Linked DNA regions of Homo sapiens: all the other regions are linked to region 1. The links come from fine-mapping of genetic effects on gene expression. A gene starts in region 1. Each other region holds a variant in brackets. All regions are shown on one strand. Distances are between the middles of the regions. Region 1 holds the start of CEACAM19 (CEA cell adhesion molecule 19). Region 2 overlaps IGSF23 (immunoglobulin superfamily member 23). Region 3 has its middle 25 kb from the start of CEACAM20. Region 4 overlaps IGSF23 (immunoglobulin superfamily member 23). Region 5 holds the start of PVR (PVR cell adhesion molecule).

Region 1 (4,118 bases):
TAACCACTGCGTGCCTCCATTTTTCAATCTGTAAAATGGAGACAATAATGGCGCTGGCCTCATGGAGTTGTTTTAAGGTAAAAATGAGTAAATATAGAGTAATGGTTCTCAACCAGGGGTGATTCTTATCCCAGGGTGGAGACATTTGGTAATATCTGAAGACATTTTTGGTTGGCATGACTAGGAAGCTGCTACTGGTACCTAGTGAGTAGAGGCCGGGGTGCTGCTGAAATCTCTGCAATGCACAAACCCTCTACTAGTAAGAACTGGCCAATACAAAACATCAGTAGTGCTGAAGCTGAGAAACTATGCTTTAGGGAAAATGTTTAAGATGGTGCCTGGCTCTTAACGATCACCCAAGAAATGCCAGCTGTCATTATTGCCCACCACCCTTTCCCTCACACTTTGCCCCGAGTGGATTCATCAGTAAATACTCGCTTTATAAACATAAAGATTGAGGGATGCATTCCTCACAACCAGGCATACAGTAAGTGCTCGATAAAAATTTGGTTAATGTTAGTGCATGTGAAAGGTAAATGAGATGGTGCATTCTCCAGTGTCAGGCACAAGGCGGGCATTTCATAGATATTTTATTAGTTAATGCATGTGAGGGTTAAAGACTATCTCTGGGGATTGGTACACAGTAGATGCTCAATATGTGTCAAGTGAATAAATGAGAGGACCAAATGAAATGGTGTTTGCACAGCACCTGGTGCATGGTAGCTGCTCAGGGCTCATTAGCTTCCTCACCTCATCCCCAGACCCTAACACTTACCAGCTACCTGGACCTCAGTCTTGGCCTTCATAGTCCATTCAGAGTTGATGGTAATGGCTACTTGGTAGGTGCCACTGTCTGTAGGCTGGGCGCGGCGCAGCAGCATGGAACCATTGGGGAAGCCCACGATGTCTCGCTGTCCCATGGCACTGCCATCCCTCTGAGGCCGTTGTATCCCAGGGATGTAGGTAAATAGCCTCGTGCCTCCGTACGTCTCCTCCCCCAGGTACCAGTTGAAGTCCTGGAAGGTGTCTGGGACACCCTGGACTGACAGGAGAAGGTCCTGGTTCTTTTGAGGCTGCTCTGGAATCTTCTGGATGTAGAGAGCTGCCTGGGAGCCTTGGAGCATCCAGAGGACCAGGATTGAGGCTGTGGGAAGTTACAGGGAAGGGCTGAGATCAGGGGTGTTGCCAGGGACCATGGCATGCTCCTCTCTAGATACAGATCTTCAGCGGGGAGCAAGGACTCTGAGTGCTGCTCATTGGAAACAATGCTGGGATTGATTAGTGATGTCTGCCCTGGGTGCAGGAGTGGGAACACAGGCATGGTTACCACAGATTTGCCATCCTGTTGATCCAGAGGTTTTTCTACCTTGAGATGCTGTGTGGCCTGCTTCTAAACACATGGACTCTCTGAATTCATTCATTCATTCATTTATTCAACCAATACTTATAGGCATATGTAATATATAAGCTATAATACCAACTATATGTAATACATCTAAACTTCCTTCAATTTCTAGACACTGGAGATATAGCAGGGAACCAAACATACATAAATTCCTGCCTTCATGGTCCTAACATTATAGAAAATTCCATAGATAAAATGGCAATGAGGCTGTGATTCTGTTGCCCCTCCCCCATCTTATTCTAATTTCATCCTCTCAGGTAATCTTTCCCTACTTCTAAGAGGAAACTTCAATCTCTGGGCTGAGTCCCCATTTCTCCCCTTGGCCTTTAGGGTCTATTTCCTCCTTACCTGAGAGCAGGAGGCTCTTTGAGAAGCAGCCCTGGGTCCCCATGGGAATCTCCATCTTGGCGTCTTGTGGAAATGCCAAGGGGCCACGAGCTGGACACTAAGGGGGCCAGAGGGGTGGGCCCTGGCTGTCTGAAGTAGGCCAGCTCAGTGGGGATCCCAGGGGTGCCTTAGAGACACCGCTGGGGCTGGCCCAGCCCCAGCATGCCCTGTCCATGGGCTCTGGAGGCTCCACCTATACTCCCTGGGATGGGAGCACAGACAGAGGTTGAACCAGTTTTTCAGGGTGACTGGGGAACTTCCCAGGACTCCTCCCCTGACCCTCTTCAACCTCTTTTTCTCACTCAGCGTGACTACAACAGCAGTCACTGTAGCAATAGTCATAACAGCCTCTGTTTGAACAATTCCCCTGGGTTTGTTCAAACACACACTGCCTCATTCAGCAGCCACCATAAATAACTGTTCCCATTGCACAGATGTGGAAACAGAGGCCCAGGAAAAGAGGCAAGTCTGCCAATAGACAGAGGTGGGATTTCACCTGTGGCTGACTCACTTGAAGGCTCTGAGGCAGGCTGGGTGCGGTGGCTCACGCCTGTAATCCCAGCATTTTGGGAGGCCAAGGTGGGTAGATCACGAGGTGAGGAATTTGAGACCAGCCTGGCCAACATGGTGAAACCCTGTCTCTACTAAAAATACAAAAGTTAGTCAGGCGTGGTGGTGGGCACCTGTAATCCCAGCAACTGGAGAGGCTGAGGCAGGAGAATCACTTGAACTTGGGAGGCAGGGGTTGCAGGGAGCCGAGATCGCGCCACTGCATTCCAGCCTGGGTGACAGAGCGAGACTTCGTCTCAAAAAAAAAAAAAAGCTCTTAGCCTCGTGTTTTTCTTTTTTTTTCTTTTGAGATGGAGTTTCGCTCTTGTTGCCCAGGCTGGAGTGCAATGGCGCAATCTCAGTTCACCGCAACCTCTGCCACCTGGGTTCAAGCGATCCTCCCACCTCAGGGAGTAGCTGGAAATGCAGGCATGCGCCACCACGCCCGGCTACTTTTGTAGTTTTAGTAGAGACAGGGTTTCTCCATGTTGGTCAGGCTGGTCTTGAACTCCTGACCTCAGGTGATCTGCCCACCTTGGCCTCCCAAAGTGCTGGGATTACAGGTGTGAGCCACCGCGCTCAGCCTGTTTTTTTTTTTTTTTTTTTTTTTTTTTTTTCTTGAGACAGGGTCTTGCTCTGTCTTTCCATTCATGAACATTGGTTGTCTTACCATTTAAATATGTCACCTATAATTGCAAGAATATTTTGTAGTTTTTGGATTGGTTTCTTTTTTAGATGCTGTGTCACCCAGGCTGGAGTACAGTGGCACAATCTCAGTTTACTGCAACCTCCGCCTCCCAGGTTCAAGTGATTCTTCTGCCTCAGCCTTCTGAGTAGCTGGGATTACAGGCATGCGTCACCATGCCTGGCTAATTTTTGTATTTTTAGTAGAGATGGGGTTTTGCCATGTTGGCCAGGCTGGTCTCAAACTCCTGACCTCAGATGATCCTCCTGCCTCGGCCTCCCAAAGTACTAGGAGTATAGGCATGAGCCACTGCACCCAGCCCCAGAGTGTATGTTTTGTACTTTTTTGGATCATGTTTATTCCAAGTGTGTTATTCTTTTTTTTTTTTTTTAAGACAGGGTCTCGCTCTGTTGCCCAGGCTGGAGTATAGTTGCATGATCATTGCTCACTGCAGCCTCCAACTCCTGGGCTCAAGCAATCCTCCCGTCTCAGCCTCCTGAGTAGCTGGGACCACAGTTGTGTGCTACCATCCCTGGTCAATTTTTATATGTTTTGTAGAGATGGGATCTCACTATGTTGCCCCAGGCTGGTGTTGAACTCCTGGGCTCAAGTGATCCTCCCACCTTAGCCTCCCAAAGTACTGGGATTACAGATGTGACTCACCATACCTGGCTTAGCCTAGTTTTTAAAAAGCATCCTCCATTCATTCCAGCACACATTCCCAGTGCCCAGTTGTGTGTGCTGGGTGATGTTGGTGACACAGTGATGATTGAGACCACCTCTGCTCTGCCCTCTGTCCACAGTAGGGCACACAATCCTGTAGGGTTTGGGGGGGCAGACCCCTCTCACACAATTATGATCCAGAGTGATCAGGGCTGGGATGGAGGAGCCCAGGAGTCTGGGAGAGCCCAAGGAGACACACCTCATTCAACCTGACGGCTAGGGAGGGCTTCCTGGGGGAGGGGGCATCTGAGCTGAGACCTGGAGTAAGAGTAGAAATGAGGCAGATGATGGGGTGAGGCAGCATGAGGTGCACCAGGCAGCATAAATAGCAATGCAAGGATGTGGAGGCTGAGATAGTCATCAAGGTGT
Region 2 (4,118 bases), 53 kb after region 1:
TGGTGGAGGTTGTAGTGAGCCGAGATCGCACCACTTCACTCCAGCCTGGGCGACAGAGCGAGGCTCCATCTCACACACACACACACACACACACACACACACACACACACACACAAAATTAGTCATCAAATCACAGAAATACAGATGGATGAACCTCAGCGGTCCATAAATTCTCTGGGAGGGGAGTAAAAACCCCTCTGTGCAGAAGTGGGGTTCTAAGTGTGCAGTGGCATGGTCTTGGCTCATTGCAACCTCCGACTCCCAGGTTCAAGCGATTCTACTTCCTCAGTCTCCTGAATAGCTAGGATTACAGGCGCCTGCCACTATGCCCGGCTAATTTTTGTATTTTTAATAAATACGGGGTTTCACCATGTTGGTCAGGCTGGTCTTGAACTCCTGAACTCGTGATCTGCCCGCCTTGGCCTCCCAAAATGCTGGGATTACAGGCGTGAGCCACTGCGCCTGGCCGACACTGGAACTTTTTGAGTCTTTGTTAGAGCATCAGAATCTGAACCCTAACTAAGTTGATCTCTGTTATGAACTGAATTGAGTCCCCCACCAAACATATATGTTGAAACCCTAACCCCCAGTACCTCAGAATGTGACCGTATTTGGAGATAAGGTCTTTAACGAGGTGATTAAGTTAGAATGAAGTTGTTAGGGTGGGTCCTAATCCAACCTGACTGGTGCCCTTATAAGAAGAGGAAGTTTGGACACACAGAGAGACACCAGGGATGTGCACACACAGAAGAAAGACCATGCAAGGACAGAATGAGAAGGCACCCTTCCGCAAGTCAAAAAAGAGAGGCCTCAGAGGAGATGAAACCTGCCAGCAGCTTCATCTTGCAATCCATCCTTCAGAACTGTGAGGGAATAAGTTTCTGTTGATTAAGCCTAGAGTATTTTGCCCGAGCCGACTAGGACAGTCTCTGGACTATCTTCTAAAAGGAGGATGGGTCTGGTTACTCTCAGGGCTTTGTTTTCCTAATTCAGATATGAAAGTTTGAGTCCAGGTGATAAAAATATAGATGAGGTTGAAGGCTGCTACCAGACCTTCTCTACCTTTCCCAAGTGATGATGAATGCGTATCTCATGAATGTCTGTTGCAAGTCTTGGCTGTTATAATGTGGATATTTATCCCTGCCAAAATCTCATGTTGAAATGCGATCCCCAGTGTTGGTGGTGGGGCCTCAGTAAAGGTGTTTGGGCCACAGGGGCGGATCCCTTATGGCTTGACGCTGTCCTCATGGTAGTGAGTTCTCATGAGATCTGATTGTTGTAAAATGTGGCACTTCCTCTCTGACTCTCTCTTTCTCTTGCTCCTGTTCTCACGGGAGACACCTGCTCCTCCTTTGCCTTCGCTATGATTAAAAGCTCCCTGAGGGCTCCTTAGAAGCTGAGCAGATGCTGGCATTACACTTCCACCTGTGGAACCATGAGCCAATCAAACGTCTTCTTCTTTTTTTTTTTTTTTTAAATAAATAACCCAGTCTCAGGTATGTCTTTATAGCAATGGAAGAACAATCTAACACAACGACAAAAAATAGCCACAACACATTGCAACTCCTCTCCTTAAGAGGTGGGGCCTTTTTCCTTCCTGTTGAAGCTGGGCTGGCCATGT[G/A]ACTTGCTTTGACCAATAGAAGGTGGCAGAAGTGATGGTGGTCAGTTTTGAGCCTGGGCCTGAAGGAGTTTTGCAGCTTTACCTCTTGTTCCTCTTCCATTGCTGAGTGAACAAGCCTGGGATAGCCTGCTGGAGGTTGGGAGGCTATGTGGCCCACTCATCCCCATCACTCCAGCCACCAGCTGGTCCATGGCCAGGCACATGAAGGAGGTCATTCTGGACCAGCCAACACCCAGACACCCCAACAGCTGAACACAACAACTGTCCAGCTAGATAAGTGATTGATGTTTTAAGTTTTGGGGTGGTTTATTGGGGAGCAATGGATAACCAGCATGCAAAGTGTCCTGGTGGGCTCTTCTGAGGTCCAGTGGGTCTGCTTTCTGAGAAGTCAGCCCCTCCCACTGCGGGGCCCCACTCACTCTTGACATGGATCTGCTCCGTCACACTCCTGTGTCCCCTGCTGGTTTCCAGCACGACGGTGTAGCTGCCCGAGTCCTGAGCCGTCATTTTCTAATGACCAGGCTGCCTTGGGTTCCCAGCATCTCCCGGCCAGTGTGAGCAGGTCCTGGGAGGCCCTTCGGGGAGAATATCATGGCTGCTGGCTGGGCGTCATACCCTCAGAACCAAGACGTGGTGAGAATGCCTTCAAGCCTTCCGGGGACAGGAAGATGGACACTGGCTCCTTCGGTCAAGGTGTTCAGCTGTGCCGAGAAGGGCAGCTCTGAGAAGGCAGAGCAGGTGCAGGATGTGAGCAGGGCGCCTTGGAAGAGCAGGGAAGGAGGAGGAATCATTGATTCCTCTCCTTGACCCCTTGAAGCACGCACGTATATTATACTGGATGTTGCAAAAATTGGTTTTCTACCCTTCTCTGCTCCACTCTGCTGCCTGAAAGGCTGACTTCTCTGAGCTGTGTTGTTGGGGTCCCCTTACCTTTTGCTGCTGGTTGGTTTCTGTCAGTGGGCACGTTGGCAGAAGAGGAGAGGGCAGCGGGGGAGTAAGCTTGAAGGGATTAGTCCTACAGTTGGCTGGGTCCTTCTGTTCCAGCCCACAGCTCCTGTTGAGTGTCTCTCTCCATATACTACTAATGTCTTCTGGTTCTGGGATCTGCTTTGCTCCATTTACTCCTACCCAACCCCTCACCCAACATTTTCTCACCACCTTATTTAGAAATAATAAAGGGTTATAAATCAATGTGAATGGTACATTTTTAAAGGGTGACATAATGTTTGTTCTGGACACTGATTAAGTTATAACCTTGCCACTATTTTTTCTTTTTAAAATTAACAAATACAAATTGTGTATATTTATGGTGTACAATGTGATGTTTTAAAATACATATACATTGTGGAATGGCTAAATTGAGCTAATTAACATATGCATTACCTCATGTACTTATTTTTTTTGTGGTGAGAACACATAAAATCTACTTTCTTAGCCAATAATTTACTCATTTAAAGCGTACAATTCAAGAGCTTTTAGTATACTCACAGAATTGGGCAACCATCACCTCAAGCAATTTAAGGACATTTTCGTCACCCCAAAAAGAATCCCTGCGTCTCTTGGGCACCACACCTAATCCTTTCACTCCTGATAGGCATTTTTTTTTTTTTTTTAATATAAGAGTAGGCCGGTGTGTTGGCTCATACCTGTAATCCTGCACTTTGCGGGGGCGGGGGGAGGGGTGGGGCAAGGCTGGAAGATTACTTGAGCCAGAAGTTCAAGACTAGCCTGGGCAACTGAGTGAGGCCCTGTCTCTACAAAAATAAAAAATTCGCTGGGCATGGTGGCACGCGCCTGTAGTCCCAGCTACTCAGGAGGCTGAGGTGGGAAGATTCCTCAAGTCCAGGAGTTTGAGGTTTCAGTGAGCTATGATCCTGCCACTGCACTGCAGCCTGGGTGACAGAGCAAGACCTTTCTCCCTCTCTCTCTCTCTCTTTTTCTCTCTCTCCCTCTCTCTCTCTACATATATGGTATTACTCATATATACTCATATATATATATTTATTTATTTCCATTTTTATAGCAGAAAACTTAGACTCCTAGAAATAAACACTATGTTTTGGAAACTTTTACTGTTTTTTTTTTTCAAGCTTTATGCTTGTTATTGTTTCTATTTCCTTCTTCTTTTTTTTTTTTTTTTGAGATGGAGTCTCGCTCTGTCGCCAGGCTGGAGTGCAGTGGTGCAATCTCGGCTCACTGCAAGCTCCACCTCCCGGGTTCAAGTGATTCCCCTGCCTCAGCCTCCCGAGTAGTTGGGACTACAGGCGTGCGCCACCACGCCCAGCTAATTTTTTTGTATTTTAGTAGAGACAGGGTTTCACCATGTCGGCCAGGATGGTCTCAATCTCCTGACCTTGTGATCCGCCTGCCTGGGCCTCCCAAAGTGCTGGGATTACAGGTGTGAGCCACCACGCCTGGCTGTTTCTATTTCTTTTAAACAAAAAGTAGAATTATGTTCAGCAATTCTTACAAGGCATCACAAAAAACAACGTCTGCT
Region 3 (4,118 bases), 120 kb after region 1:
GTAGCTGGGATTACAGGCATGTGACAGCACGCCGGGCTAATTTTGTATTTTTAGTAGAGAGGGGGTTTCTCCATGTTGGTCAGGCTGGTCTCAAACTCCCGACCTCAGGTGATCTGCCTGCCTCAGCCTCCTAAAGTGCTGAGATTACAGGCGTGAGCCACTGCGCCCGGCCCTCAGAGGTGTGTTTTGTACCAGTTTTCAGAGGTGAGCTCCAGTTTTCTATAGAGCTAATTTTTCTATATGGCTTCCTTCTTTTCCCTTACTTACTTTCCCACACCTCTGCCAATGCTTTCTCCAAAATAAACTAATTGCACTAAGGTGTGGTGGCTCACGCCTGTAATCCCAGCACTTTGGGAGGCTGAGGCAGGTGGATCACGAGGTGAGTAGATCGAGACCATCCTGGCTAACATGGTGAAACCCTGTCTCTACTAAAAATACAAAAAATTAGCCTGGCGTGGTGGCAGGCGACAGTGCGAGACTCCATCTCCAAAAAAGTAAATAAATAAATAATAAACTAATTGCACTTACATTCTAGTGCAGAGTCTGATTCTGGGTGAACTAAGAGAGTGAATAACATTTACTATTTCAGTTTCTGTACCTCGATGTCCAAGTGTCCTCAACTGGGTTCTCTCACCAGGTCAAAATCAAGGTGTGATGTGAGTTGGCTGGGGTTTACCTGTAGGCTTTGGGAAAGAACCCATATCCAAGCTCATTCAGATGGTGGCAGAATCCTGGTTCTTTTTTTTTTTTTTTTTTTTTTTGAGATGGAGTCTCGCTCTGTCGCCCAGGCTGGAGTGCAGTGGGGCGATCTCGGCTCACTGCAAGCTCCGGCACCCACCAGCATGCCTGGCTAATTTTTTGTATTTTTAGTAGAGACGGGGTTTCACCATGTTAGCCAGGATGGTCTCGATCTACTGACCTCGTGATCCATCTGCCTCGGCCTCCCAAAGTGCTGGGATTACAGGAATGAGCCACTGTGCCTGGCCAGAATCCAGGTTCTTACAGTTGTAGGACTGAGGTCTGTTTCCTTGCTGGCTGTCATCTGCGGGTGCTCTAAGCTCTTGCAGGCCACTCTACCCTGCTCACACATTGACCCCTGCATCTTCAAAGACAGCAAGGATGCATTGAATCCTCCTTGTGTTTTGATTCTCTGACTTTCTCATCTGATCTGCTTTTAAAAGAGTCACCTGATCAGGTCAGGCCCACCCAGATGATCTGTATTTTAAGATCAGCTGACTTTGAGCTTTAATTACAAAATCCCTTCAAAGCAATACCTAGATTAGCATTTGATTGAACAATCAGGAACAGAAATCTGGAAGGACTATATTTAGAATCCTGATTACCACGCTGGCATTGGGGTTTACTCAGTTTCTTGATTCCATAGATGTATGTCTTTTACCAGATTTGGGAAACCAGCCATTATACCCACTTCCTCCTTTCCTTCTGGGTCTCCAATGACATGAATGTTGGCTCTTTTGTTAAAGTCCCACAGGTCCCAAAGTTCTGTTCTTCACTTCTTATCAGTCTATTTTCTTTCTGTTGTTCAGATTTGGTAACTTTTATCTGCACTGATTTTTATCTCTGTCATCTCCATTCTGCAGCTGGGCTCAAACATTAAGTTTTTAAAAAATTTCTGTTATTGTGCTTTTCCATTCTAAAATTTCCGTCTTGTTCTTTTTCATATCTTCTATTTCTTTGCTGAGACTTTCTGGTTTTTCACTTATTTCAAGTGTTTGTAATTGTTCATTGAAGCATTTTTATGTTGGCTGCTCTAAGATTCTTTTAAGACAATTCTAACATCAGTGTAGTGAATTCTTACAATTTTATAGAAACTCAGTATCAATTTTTGAAATGTTATTGTTTTGAGACAGGGTCGCACTCTGTCACCCAGGCTGGAGTGCAGTGGTGCAATCACGGCTCACTGCAGCCTCGAGCTCCTGGGCTCAAGTGAACCTCTCATCTCAGTCCCCCAAGTAGCTGGGACTATAGGCGTATGCCACCACACCCAGCTAATTTTTTGAAATTTTATTTGTAGAGACGGAGGTCTCACTGTGTTGCCCAGGCTGGTCTCAAACTCCTGAGCTCAAGCAATCCTCTTGCCTCAGCCTCCCAAAGTGTTGGGATTACAGATGTGAGCCACTGTGCCTGGCTCAGTATCTATTTTGAATATAAGTTGGACTTTCTCATACCATAAGAAAAGCTTAGTCACCCTTGACACAGTTTCCAGGTCTCCGCCTCCCCCCAGATCCTTAATGTGGCAGATCCAGATA[C/A]CTGCCTTACACTACCACTTCCTGTTAACCACCTCCTTATGCAACAGCTAGATATAACTCACCTGACTGTCCCCCTGACCCCCAGACCCTGCATAGGCTGTGCAGATATGCCACAGTGATCACCTCCCAGTCAGTGTGACTCCATGCAACTTGTGCCTGCTGGCTCTAAACCCAGTTAGAATTCTCTGTGGAAAACTGCCTGAGCAGTTTCCTTAGACTCCAATAAAAGCATCAGCCCACAGGTCTCTCACTTTCTCTTTCTTGCTCCCCACCCGCTGGTTGAGTGTGCGTGTCCCGACAACTCTCTTCTTCCTGTTGGCTCTGTGAGATGTGCTGCTCTGTCTTCTCCGGAATCTGTGAGTAATAAACTGCCCCTGTTATTTCATGTGTTTTGTTGTGCTGCCTCCTCTGTGTCTCACCTGACTGACACATCCAAACCTAACGTCTTTCCTGGTCAGGGCTGTCCTAAAGCATGGCTCTCTTTGTAGAAATAAACTGGACACAGGTCAGACAAAAGCCTTAAGAATGTCTGCCATTATAAACAAGTGTACTGTGGCCAGGTGTGATGGCTCATGCCTGTGATCCCAGCACTATGGGAGGTTGGGGTGGGAGGATCCCATGAGGCTAGGAGTTCAAGATCAGCCTGGCCAACATGGTGAAACCCCGTCTGTACTTAAAAAAAAAAAAAAATTAGTTGGGTGTAGTGGCATATGTCTGTAATCCCACCTACTCAGGAGGCTGAGGCATGAGAATTGCTTGAACCTGGGAGGTGGAGGTTGCAGTGAGCCAAGACCATACCACTGCGCTCCGACCTGGGTGACAGAGTGAGACTCTGTCTCAAAAACAAACAAACACACAAAAAATAAGTGTACTGTGAGAGGGACACCTGGTCACAGGTCAGACATGTAGGCATTAGGCCGACCACCAAGATAAAGAAGTAACCAGTGAAAATTACACTTTAAACATCTACAACTAAATCCCCTAGAAAACTCAAGACCAAGTTAGAAAACATCAACAACAATCCATGTCATCTCTATTAATTGTCTTTCCTCATTTAATTTCAGGAATGTCTTTCTCATTCAGTCAATTTTTTTTTTTTTTTTGTAGAGATGGGGTCTCACTATGTTGCCCACGCTGGTCTCGAACTTCTGAGCTCAAGCAATTCTCCCACCTCGGCCTCCCAAAGTATTGGGATTACATGTAGGTGTATGACAAGTGATTTTCAACAACACCCTGGACATTTTGGAAATTATGAGACGCTGGATCTCATTTAAATCTTCTGTTATAGCAGGTCTCCTCTGACATCTTGCTGGTGGGGCAAAAAGGGCACCATCTTGTTATAGCCAGTGGGGATGGAGGTCCAGGTTCCCCATTTGGCCTCTGTTGACATTCCAGGTGGGGCGGGGCAACTGTTACTCTGGGCAGTTAGCAGAGTTCAGGCTTTCCACTGAGACATCCTCTGATACCATCTTGCCCAGAAGGGGCAGAGACGCCTCGTTACCGCTCCCTAGTGGCCTCAATGGACACTGCAGGGTCGGTGCTCATTACTGCTGGGCAAGGATGACAGTCCCAGCTGCTTATTCAGCCTGGTGGAGGGGATGGGTGTCTCTGTACAGCTGGCAAGGGTAAATGTCCAGGCTTTTCTGTGGGATATCACAGCAGCAAAGTGATTATCTTGTAAAGATTTGCTGTCTTTAGCAAATCTTGTCAGGCTACTGCTCCTTGTCCTTTGGCTAGAGCAGGCTTTGCTTGAGCCTCTTTTGGATCTACACTCATTGGCATTTCTAGATTGCCAGGCTCTCCAGCTCCCAGTCTGGGATCTGTGAGGCGCAAAGAAAGTCCAGAAAA
Region 4 (4,118 bases), 45 kb after region 1:
TCCCAGGGAGGCCTTCCCTGACTCGTTAAATGCCACCCCACTCCACAATCTTTGTCCTGCTTCCCAGCCTCACTCCTCTCCTTAGCGCTCATCCAACATACTATCTTTTTTAAAAGATTTATTATTATTACTTTTTTGACTCAGGGTCTCACTCTGTGTCCAGTGTGGAGTGCAGTGGCATGATCCTAGCTCACTGCAGTCTAGACTTCCTTGGGCTCAGGTGATCCTCCCATCTCAGCCTCCTGAGTAGCTGGGACTATAAGTGCATGCCACCATGCCTGGCTAATTTTTATATTTTGAGAGAGATGACAAGATGTCTTGTCATGTTGCTCAGGCTGGTTTCAAACTCCTGGGCTCGAGTGATCTACCCACCTCGGCCTCCCAAAGTGCTGGGATTACAGGTGTGAGCCACTACACCTGGCCCATCCAATATACTATCTATATTTCACTCATTCATTGTGTTTCTTGATGGTGTCCCCGACCAGGATGCAAGTTCCATGAGGGCAGGGTCTTTCTGCTGTTTCTTCCCTCGGTATCCTCAGTGCCTGGCACAGAGCGGTCACTGCAGATATGTGTAGAGAGGACGAACATAGTACTTACCACATTCCAGGCACTGCTTTAAGTTTCTTAGAAATATTCACTCACTGGACGGGTGCAGTGGCTCATGCCTGTAATCCCAAAACTTTGGGAAGCTGAGGTAGGCAGATCATGAGGTCAGGAGTTTGAGATCAGCCTGACCAACATGGCGAAACCCTGTCTCTGCTAAATATACAAAAATTAGCCAGGCGTGGTGGTATGCACCTGTAATCCCAGCTACTCAGGAGGCTGAGGCAGGAGAACTGCTTGAACCTGGCAAGCAGAGGTTGCAGTGAGCCGAGATCGCACCACTGCACTCCGGCCTGGGCAACAGAACAAGACTCCATCTCAAAAAAAAAAAAAAAGAAAAAGAAAAATTCACTCACAACAACCCAACCCAACAACCCAGAGAGTCAGATGCTATTATTATCATCCCCATTTTGCAGATGGGCAAACTGAGGCACAGAGAAGGGGAGTGGCTTGCCCACAGCCTCACTGCTAGTAAGTTACAGAGCTGGGACTTGAAGCCAGACAGCCCAGCTCTAGTGTCCTCTTCTATCTCTTTGTTGCTGTGATCCCATTTTGGAAACCAGTGAGTCAGATGGGCTCCTCAGGAGTCGCTATCACCCTCCCTGATGGGGGTGTTGGTTTCATCTCTGTTTCCTTGTTGAGCCAGCTCTGTGCCCCATGGGGGCTGAGTGGATGTTGCCCAGTGGACGGGGGTGAGGGATAGAGGTACCTTAGGCTCTGGATGATGATGAAACACATGCCTGCAATCAGTGCCCCGGCTCCCAGGATCCCAGCCGCAAGGAGCCCGATGGCAGAGCCTCCTGACAGGGACAGAGTGGGGTCTGGCTCCATGGGCTCTGCTTCTGTGGGCTGCATGATGGGTTCTGGGGACCAAGGAGGGGTGAGATTGGAGGAGCCATCTGCCCGCCCTCCCTGTGCACCCCTCCCTCCTGCCATTCCCCCTCCCAAGTGTCTCTTCAATCCATCCTTCTCTTCCATCCTCCAGGTCTCTGGCCCCCTCTCCTCCCTGCTCTCCTGCCCTAGTCCAGC[A/G]CCCATCCACCTTCCTACCACATGGAAGCCAGGAGGATCTTTCTAAAGCTCACACCTGACCCTGTTCCTCCCCTGCTCAGAACCCTGCTGTGGCTTCCCAGCACCCTGGGGCAGAAGTCAGTTTCTCACCTTAGCCTTCGAGGCCCTGCCACCTGGCCAGCCTCATCTCTCTCATTGCCCTGCCTTTATAGCCATGCAACCCTGGACTCCACTCAATTTTCCAAGCTCATCCCTTTCTTTCTCTCTTGCCTCCAGGCCTGTCCATGCTGCACTGTCTCTCTGGAATGCCATCTCTCTCTCTTGGCTTGCATAATTCCTTTTTTTTTTTTTTTTGAGACAGAGTCTCCCTCTGTCACCAGGCTGGAGTGCAGTGGCACAATCTTAGCTCACTACAACCTCCACCTCCTGGGTTCCAGTAATTCTTGTGTCTCAGCCTCCCTGGTAGCTGGGATTACAGGCACATGCCACCATTCCCAGCTAAATTTTGTATTTTTAGTAGAGATGGGGTTTCACCATCTTCTTCACCATCTACTTCACCATGTTGGCCAGCGTGGTCTCAAACTCCTAGCCTCAAGTGACCCACCCGCCTCAACCTCCCAAAGTGCTGAGATTACAGGAATGAGCCACTGTACCTGGCCAGCTAAGCATAATTCTCAGCTCAGGTGTCCCTTCTTCCAGGAAGCCCTCCTTAACTCCTAGGCTGAGTCTCATAGCTCTCTGGGCTCCCCCATCCCAGCCCTGCCCACTCTGGTGATCACTGTCTGTGGACACTGGACTGTAAGTCTTGTGAAGGCAGGGCTGCAGCTGTCTTGGTCACCAGAGTGTTCCCAGCTGTGTGGGCTGGCCACACAGCAAGTGCTCATAAACATTTCCTGGGCAGTTGATGAATGAGCAAAGGAGGTCTTGGAAGTATTGTCCTTCTCACTGAATATCAGGGTCACTAGGTGATATAAGATTTACATTTTTTCCCCCAGTGCATCAGCCCTGAAGCTCCCACTGGACCCTGGCCAGGGAGGTGAGGTGGTTCTCTGGGACCCAGCCAAGCTGAGATTCCCATCACGCATTCCATTTCCATGTCCCAGCTCTGAACCTTGACTCATGCATTCTTTCCTACCCCAAATACCCTCCCTCTCTTCTCTCCTGGCCAGTTCCTCTGCATACCTCTAGTTCACTCCAAGCCATGGTAGTCCATTTTCATACTGCTATGAAGAAATACCTGAGACTGGGTACTTTATTAAAAAAAAGGAGGTTTAATGGACTCCCAGTTCCACATGGCTGGGGAGGCCTCACAATCATGGCAGAAGGTGAAGGAGGAGCAAGGCATGTCTTACATGGCGGCAGGCAAGAGAATGTGTGCAGGGGAACTGCCTTTTGTAAAACCATCAGAACTCGTGAGACTTATTGACTATCACGAGAACAGCATGGGAAAAACTTGACCCCATGATTCAGTTACCTCCTACCGGGTCCCTCTCATGACACATGGGGATTATGAGAGCTACAATTCAGGATGAGATTTGGGTGGGGACACAGCCAAACCATATCACCATGTGTCCCTCCATGAATAACACACTAAAAACAATATTCACCATAACAGCTGCTATTCAAGGCACCTGCTGCCTGACAGTTGTTCTGCCAAACTCAGTCACCCCTTGTTTTCGTTCCTTATAACAACCCTGAAGAGGTATATAGGATTACCTCCATTATACACATGAGGAAACTGGGGCTCAGAGAGGGGAAGTCACTTGCGCTAAGTTACCCAGCCAGGAAGGCACGGGAACAGGGACTGAACTGAGTTTTGACCAGGTCCCAAACCACTTCTCTGATCTCAACAACTTGCTGTCATTTTGATTGCCACCTAGGGCTCCATATACCGACTGTATATGGTAATAGCTACAATTAATAATGACAATGCTAATTGCAACAGTGTTATTGGCTCACGGTTATTGAGCACTCATTAGTGTTCGATAGTGCTAGACATTATTGTTTTAAGCTATTCACCGGCTTATCTCATTGAATGCTCACAACTACACACTGGGGTAGGCACTATTATCTTCCCAGTGTTATAGATGAGGAAACTGAGGCACAGAGAAGTCAAGGCACTGGCTCAGAGTCACACAGCCAGGGATTCAAATTCCAAAGCCATTGCTTTGAACCACTCCTTAGATGATGACAATGGTGATTTTTTTTTTGAGACAGTCATCCTCTGTCACTCAGGCTGGTGTGCAGTGGTGCGATTACAGCTCACTGTAGCCTTAAACTCCTGGGCTCAAGTGATCCTCCCATTGCAGCTGGGACTACAGGTGGCATTACCATGCCTGATTAAATTTTTAGTTTTTTTTTTTTTTTTTTTTTTTGGTAGAGACAGGGTCTCACTATGTTGTCCAGGTTGGTCTCTAACTCCTGGGCTCAAGTGATCCTCCTGCCTCAGCCTCCCAAAGTGCTGGGGTTACAGGTGTGAGCCACTGCACCTGGCCCACTCCTTA
Region 5 (4,118 bases), 29 kb after region 1:
GAGGCTGCAGTGAGCCGAGAGCAGGACACTGCACTCCAGCCTGGGTGATGGAGTGAGACTGTCTCAAAAAAAAAAAAAAAAGAATGAAAGAATGAATGAATGGCCAGGCCCCTGGAGTCAGACATTGGGGGTCAGAGGGGTAATGGTGTCAAGTGTCACCCACTGTCCTCCTCCCCAACATCAACCATCCCCTCCGTCCAGACCCAGCCTGCCAGCACGCTGCTGGGTTATGGCCTGGGTATGCTGAGCAGGAACCTGGGTAAGGTAATCCGGCATGCGTCACCATCTGCTGATTTTCCGGGATTCACTTGCCTTTTTGGGAAATTTCCTCACCCAACTCCATCCCCTTTCCGAGGGGCCCAGAGGAGGGTCTTGTGCCCGACCCGTGTTGCTGCCAATTTCGAGGAATTTCTGTACCCAACTCCGACCGCTCTCCGGGTGGCCAAGAGGAGGGTCCTGCCCTCGCACCCTCGCACCGTGTTCCTTCCAACCCCGGGGCAGAGATGGGGGGTGGGTGGCGCCGGGCGGGGCCGTCATCTTCGGGAACCCAAGGGGGCGAGTACCCGGCCTGGATGCGGAGCTGGGAGCCAGACAGGGGCCACCGGACTGCGCGGGGGTCACTCACCGGTTCCTGGGGGTGGCCAGGACAGCACCAGTAGCGCCACCAGCAGCAGCGGCCACGCGGCGGCCATGGCTCGGGCCATGCCAGTTGCTCCGAGCAGCTGGGCCTCCCGCGGGCGTCTCCTCGCTTCCCGGCGCCCGCTCGCTCTGCCGCGGTCGCTGCGAGTCCAGCTCCCGGAGCTCAGGTCCTGGAATCCCCGGGGGGCCGCTCCTCCAGTGCCTGGGGTGGGAAGGGGAATACCCACTTCTTCAAGCTCCAGACAAGTGACTGGAGCGGAGGGGAGTTGGCGGCCAGTCCCGCCAGGCGCGGGGTGGGCCACCCAGGCTGGCCCTCCCCGCGCGCCTGCGCCTGCGCAGGTCTCTCCCGGCGCTCAGTCCCGCTGCAGACGCGCGCTCGCTCCGTCGGTGCCCACTAGAAGAGGCGGCTTCCTGTGTGAGGTCGCCCACATTCCAGGTGAGGAAACGGAGGCACACGGAGAGATTCAGCAACTTACTAACGGCTCGCGGTTGCCGAGTGGCAGAGCTGAGGTTCCAACTCGTGATGGGACAGATCCTGAGCCCACCAGGCTGTCCTTCCACGCAGCCTAAACTTCCCATGGGCTTTGGGGTCAGACAAGACCAGGGCTCATGTTGGGCAAGTGGTTTCTCCTCGAGGGCCCTCAGATTCTTTATCTGAAAAATGGGCATAGTAGGGCGCGGTGGCTCAGGCCTGAATTCCAGCATTTTGGGAGGCTGAGGCAGGAGGACTGTGTGAACCCAGGAGTTAGAGGCTTCAGTGAGCTACCATTGCGCCACTACACTACAGCTTGGGTGGCAGAGCCAGACCTGTCTCAAAAAAAAAAAAAAAAGTTTGGGGGCTGGGGGAGCAAGCGCAGTGGCTGACGCCTGTAATCCCAGCACTTTGGGAGGCCGAGGCAGGAGGATCACCAGAGGTCCAGGAGTTCAAGACCAGCCTGGCCAACATGGCAAAAACCCATCTTTACTAAAAATACAAAAATTAGCCGGCATGGTGGCACATGCCTGTAATCCCAGCTACTGGGGAGGCTAAGACAGGAAAATCACTTGTACCCGGGAGGCAGAGGTTGCAGTGAGCCAAGATCGGGCCTCTGCACTCCAGCCTGGGCGACAGAGTGAGACTCTGTCTCAAAAAGAAAGAAAAAAGGGCATACTAACAGTACTTACCTCACAGCGTGGTCTGTAAAACTTAAACAAGAAACTGCCTAGCTCAATTTCGGGGATATAGTTTGTACTAAATAAAAAGCTGATATACCAACAATAGCAGCAGTGGCAGTGACAATTATTATTATTGTTGCTTTACAGTTGGCATCAAATAATAATGTTCATGAGAATGGTCATTCATTCATTCTTCATTCAGCATATATTTATTGATCCAGCCAGTATCCCAGGCACTGGGTATACAGCAGAAAATAAGACAGACAAAAATCTCTGCCTTTAATGAAGACCGTGTTCTAGTGGAGGGAAACAGACCATAAACAGATTAATACCAGAACTCCATCAGGTCTGGGGAAGATAAGGGTTATGGACCAGCCTGCAGTAGGGAGAGGGGAGGAGGGAGGGGGGAGAGAGAAAGAGAGAGAGAGAAAGAGAGAGAGAGAAAGAGAGAGAGAGAGAGAGAGAAATGAGAGAGAAACAGACACACTCAGAGATAAGGGCTGGGAGACAGAGACAGAGAGATTGAAAGAGATAGAGACACAGCATAGACAGAGGGAGATGAGAGAGAAATGAGAGGTGACAGAGAGACTCAGAGAGCCAAACCCTCAGAGACAGAAACTGAGAGACTTCCTGGTCCCCAGAGGTGGCTGTCCTGGCCAGGGTCTCCATGAGGCCGACTAACAGCTCTG[G/A]TCCCTGTGCTCTGACATCTTTATATGTTTTTTATTTTTATTATTATTTTTAGACAGGGTCTCACTATTTCACTGAGGCTGGAGTGAAGTGGCGCCATCATTGCTCATTGCAGCCTCCACCTCCTGGGCTCAACTCCTGCCTCAGCCTCCTGGGTAGTTGGGACCACAGGCATATGTGATCACACCCAGCTAGTTTTTAAATTTGTTGTAGAGATAGGATCTCGCTATGTTGCTCAGGCTGGCCTTGAATTCCTGGCCGCAAGCGATCCTCCCACCTCGGCCTCCCAAAGTGCTAGGATTGCAGGCATGAGCCACTGTGCCTGGCCCCACATTCCTGTATCTTTCTGTAAAATCCTTCCTTTGGCTTTTGGCTGGCTTGGAGGTTTCTGTCCCCGGGTGCCCTCTCTAACTTGGATCTGATGCTTGTGTATGACACATCTGATGCTTGGGGTCTCTCACCCTGGATGTATGTAGGTGAATTTCTAAATGGAAACAGGGAGGCTAGTCTCTTGGAAATCTCTGAATTTTCTGTCAGTGTTGTTTTGCTGAGTTATTTCCAAATTGGGAATCTGTGGCCATCGTTATGTTCCTCCTCTGGATGATGCTGTCACCATCTGGGATTCCCCCACTTCTCTGGGCTCCCAAGCTCCTGTGGCTCCAGGGACTCCTCTCAGGGCCCTGGAGGGTCAGAGGCTGCTCCGAAGAAGCAGGCTTAGAAGAAAAAGCAAGTTTGGTTCGGGGCATATCTGCTTGCTTCTGTGTGTTTCTCTGTCAAGAGTCTAAATTCCTTGAGTGTTTGGACCAGTTGTAGACATTTTCTTCACTCAAGTGCTGAAATATCATCTGATAAAATAGTGAATGGAGATCTCCAATGGGCATCTTATTTTTTGTGTGTGTTTGTTTGTTTTGAGACAGTCTTGCTCTGTCTCCCAAGCTGGAGTGCAATGGCGTGATCTCGGCTCACGGCAGCCTCCGCCTCCCAGGCTTAAGTGATTCTTGCGCCTCAGCCTCCCAAGTAGCTGGAATTACAGGCCTGCACCACCATACCCAGCTAATTTTTTTGTGTTTTTAGTAGAGATGGGGTTTCACCATGTTGGCCAGGCTGGTCTCGAACTCCTGAACTTAGGCGATCCACCCTCCTCAGCCTCCCAAAGTGCTGGGATTACAGGCGTGAGCCACCATGCCCAATGGGCATCCTCTTGATGCTGTGGTTTTCAAACTTCTGGATCCAAAAGGATCATCAGGAAGCTTGTGTAATTAAGCAAATATGAATCCATTTCCTTATTCTTCCCTCTCCCATTAAAAAATAAAATGGTAGCATTATTCTGTATCTTTCTGTTTTTCACTTAGCAACATATCTTGGTGATTTTCCCATAGGCAGATATATTGAGCTACCTCATTCATTCATTCACAAATGTGTACTATTCCATTACATGAATGCACCGTCATTTTTGAAACTGTCTTCAGGGGATGGGCTTTTTGGGTGTTTCCAGCCCTTTTGTACTTGCAAACTGTGCTTCCCTGGGTCATCATGTCCATGGCATTTCCCATGTATGTAACAGTATCTGTCATATTTATTCCCAGAAGCTGATTTGCTGGGCCAAAGGCCATGCACATTTGTGGTCTAGAGGATGT

What was found. PIP is the estimated chance that this variant, and not a neighbour inherited with it, causes the effect.
Region 2: its variant is fine-mapped to the expression of CEACAM19 in whole blood (TOPMed, PIP above 0.99).
Region 3: its variant is fine-mapped to the expression of CEACAM19 in whole blood (TOPMed, PIP above 0.99). The same link has a PIP of 0.9 or more in blood mononuclear cells.
Region 4: its variant is fine-mapped to the expression of CEACAM19 in esophagus muscle (GTEx, PIP above 0.99).
Region 5: its variant is fine-mapped to the expression of CEACAM19 in tibial nerve (GTEx, PIP above 0.99).

The regions. Positions count from the first base shown.
Region 1 is chr19:44,669,622-44,673,739 of GRCh38, reverse strand. It overlaps CEACAM19 (CEA cell adhesion molecule 19), which reads right to left and starts at 2,258. Exons shown (of 8, transcript NM_001127893.3): 1 at 1,754-2,258; 2 at 776-1,144. The coding sequence starts at 1,808.
Region 2 is chr19:44,616,339-44,620,456 of GRCh38, reverse strand. The region is part of intron 1 of IGSF23 (immunoglobulin superfamily member 23); the gene reads right to left. Among named protein-coding and RNA genes, the nearest start is that of IGSF23, 4.8 kb to the right of the region's middle. The variant G/A (reference allele first, on the strand shown) is at 1,622.
Region 3 is chr19:44,552,148-44,556,265 of GRCh38, reverse strand. It overlaps the pseudogene CEACAM22P. Among named protein-coding and RNA genes, the nearest start is that of CEACAM20, 25 kb to the right of the region's middle. The variant C/A (reference allele first, on the strand shown) is at 2,271.
Region 4 is chr19:44,624,771-44,628,888 of GRCh38, reverse strand. It overlaps IGSF23 (immunoglobulin superfamily member 23), which reads right to left. Exons shown (of 5, transcript NM_001205280.2): 3 at 1,316-1,469. Among named protein-coding and RNA genes, the nearest start is that of IGSF23, 13 kb to the right of the region's middle. The variant A/G (reference allele first, on the strand shown) is at 1,636.
Region 5 is chr19:44,640,683-44,644,800 of GRCh38, reverse strand. It overlaps PVR (PVR cell adhesion molecule), which reads right to left and starts at 891. Exons shown (of 8, transcript NM_006505.5): 1 at 626-891. The coding sequence starts at 704. RefSeq lists a silencer at 860-939. The variant G/A (reference allele first, on the strand shown) is at 2,484.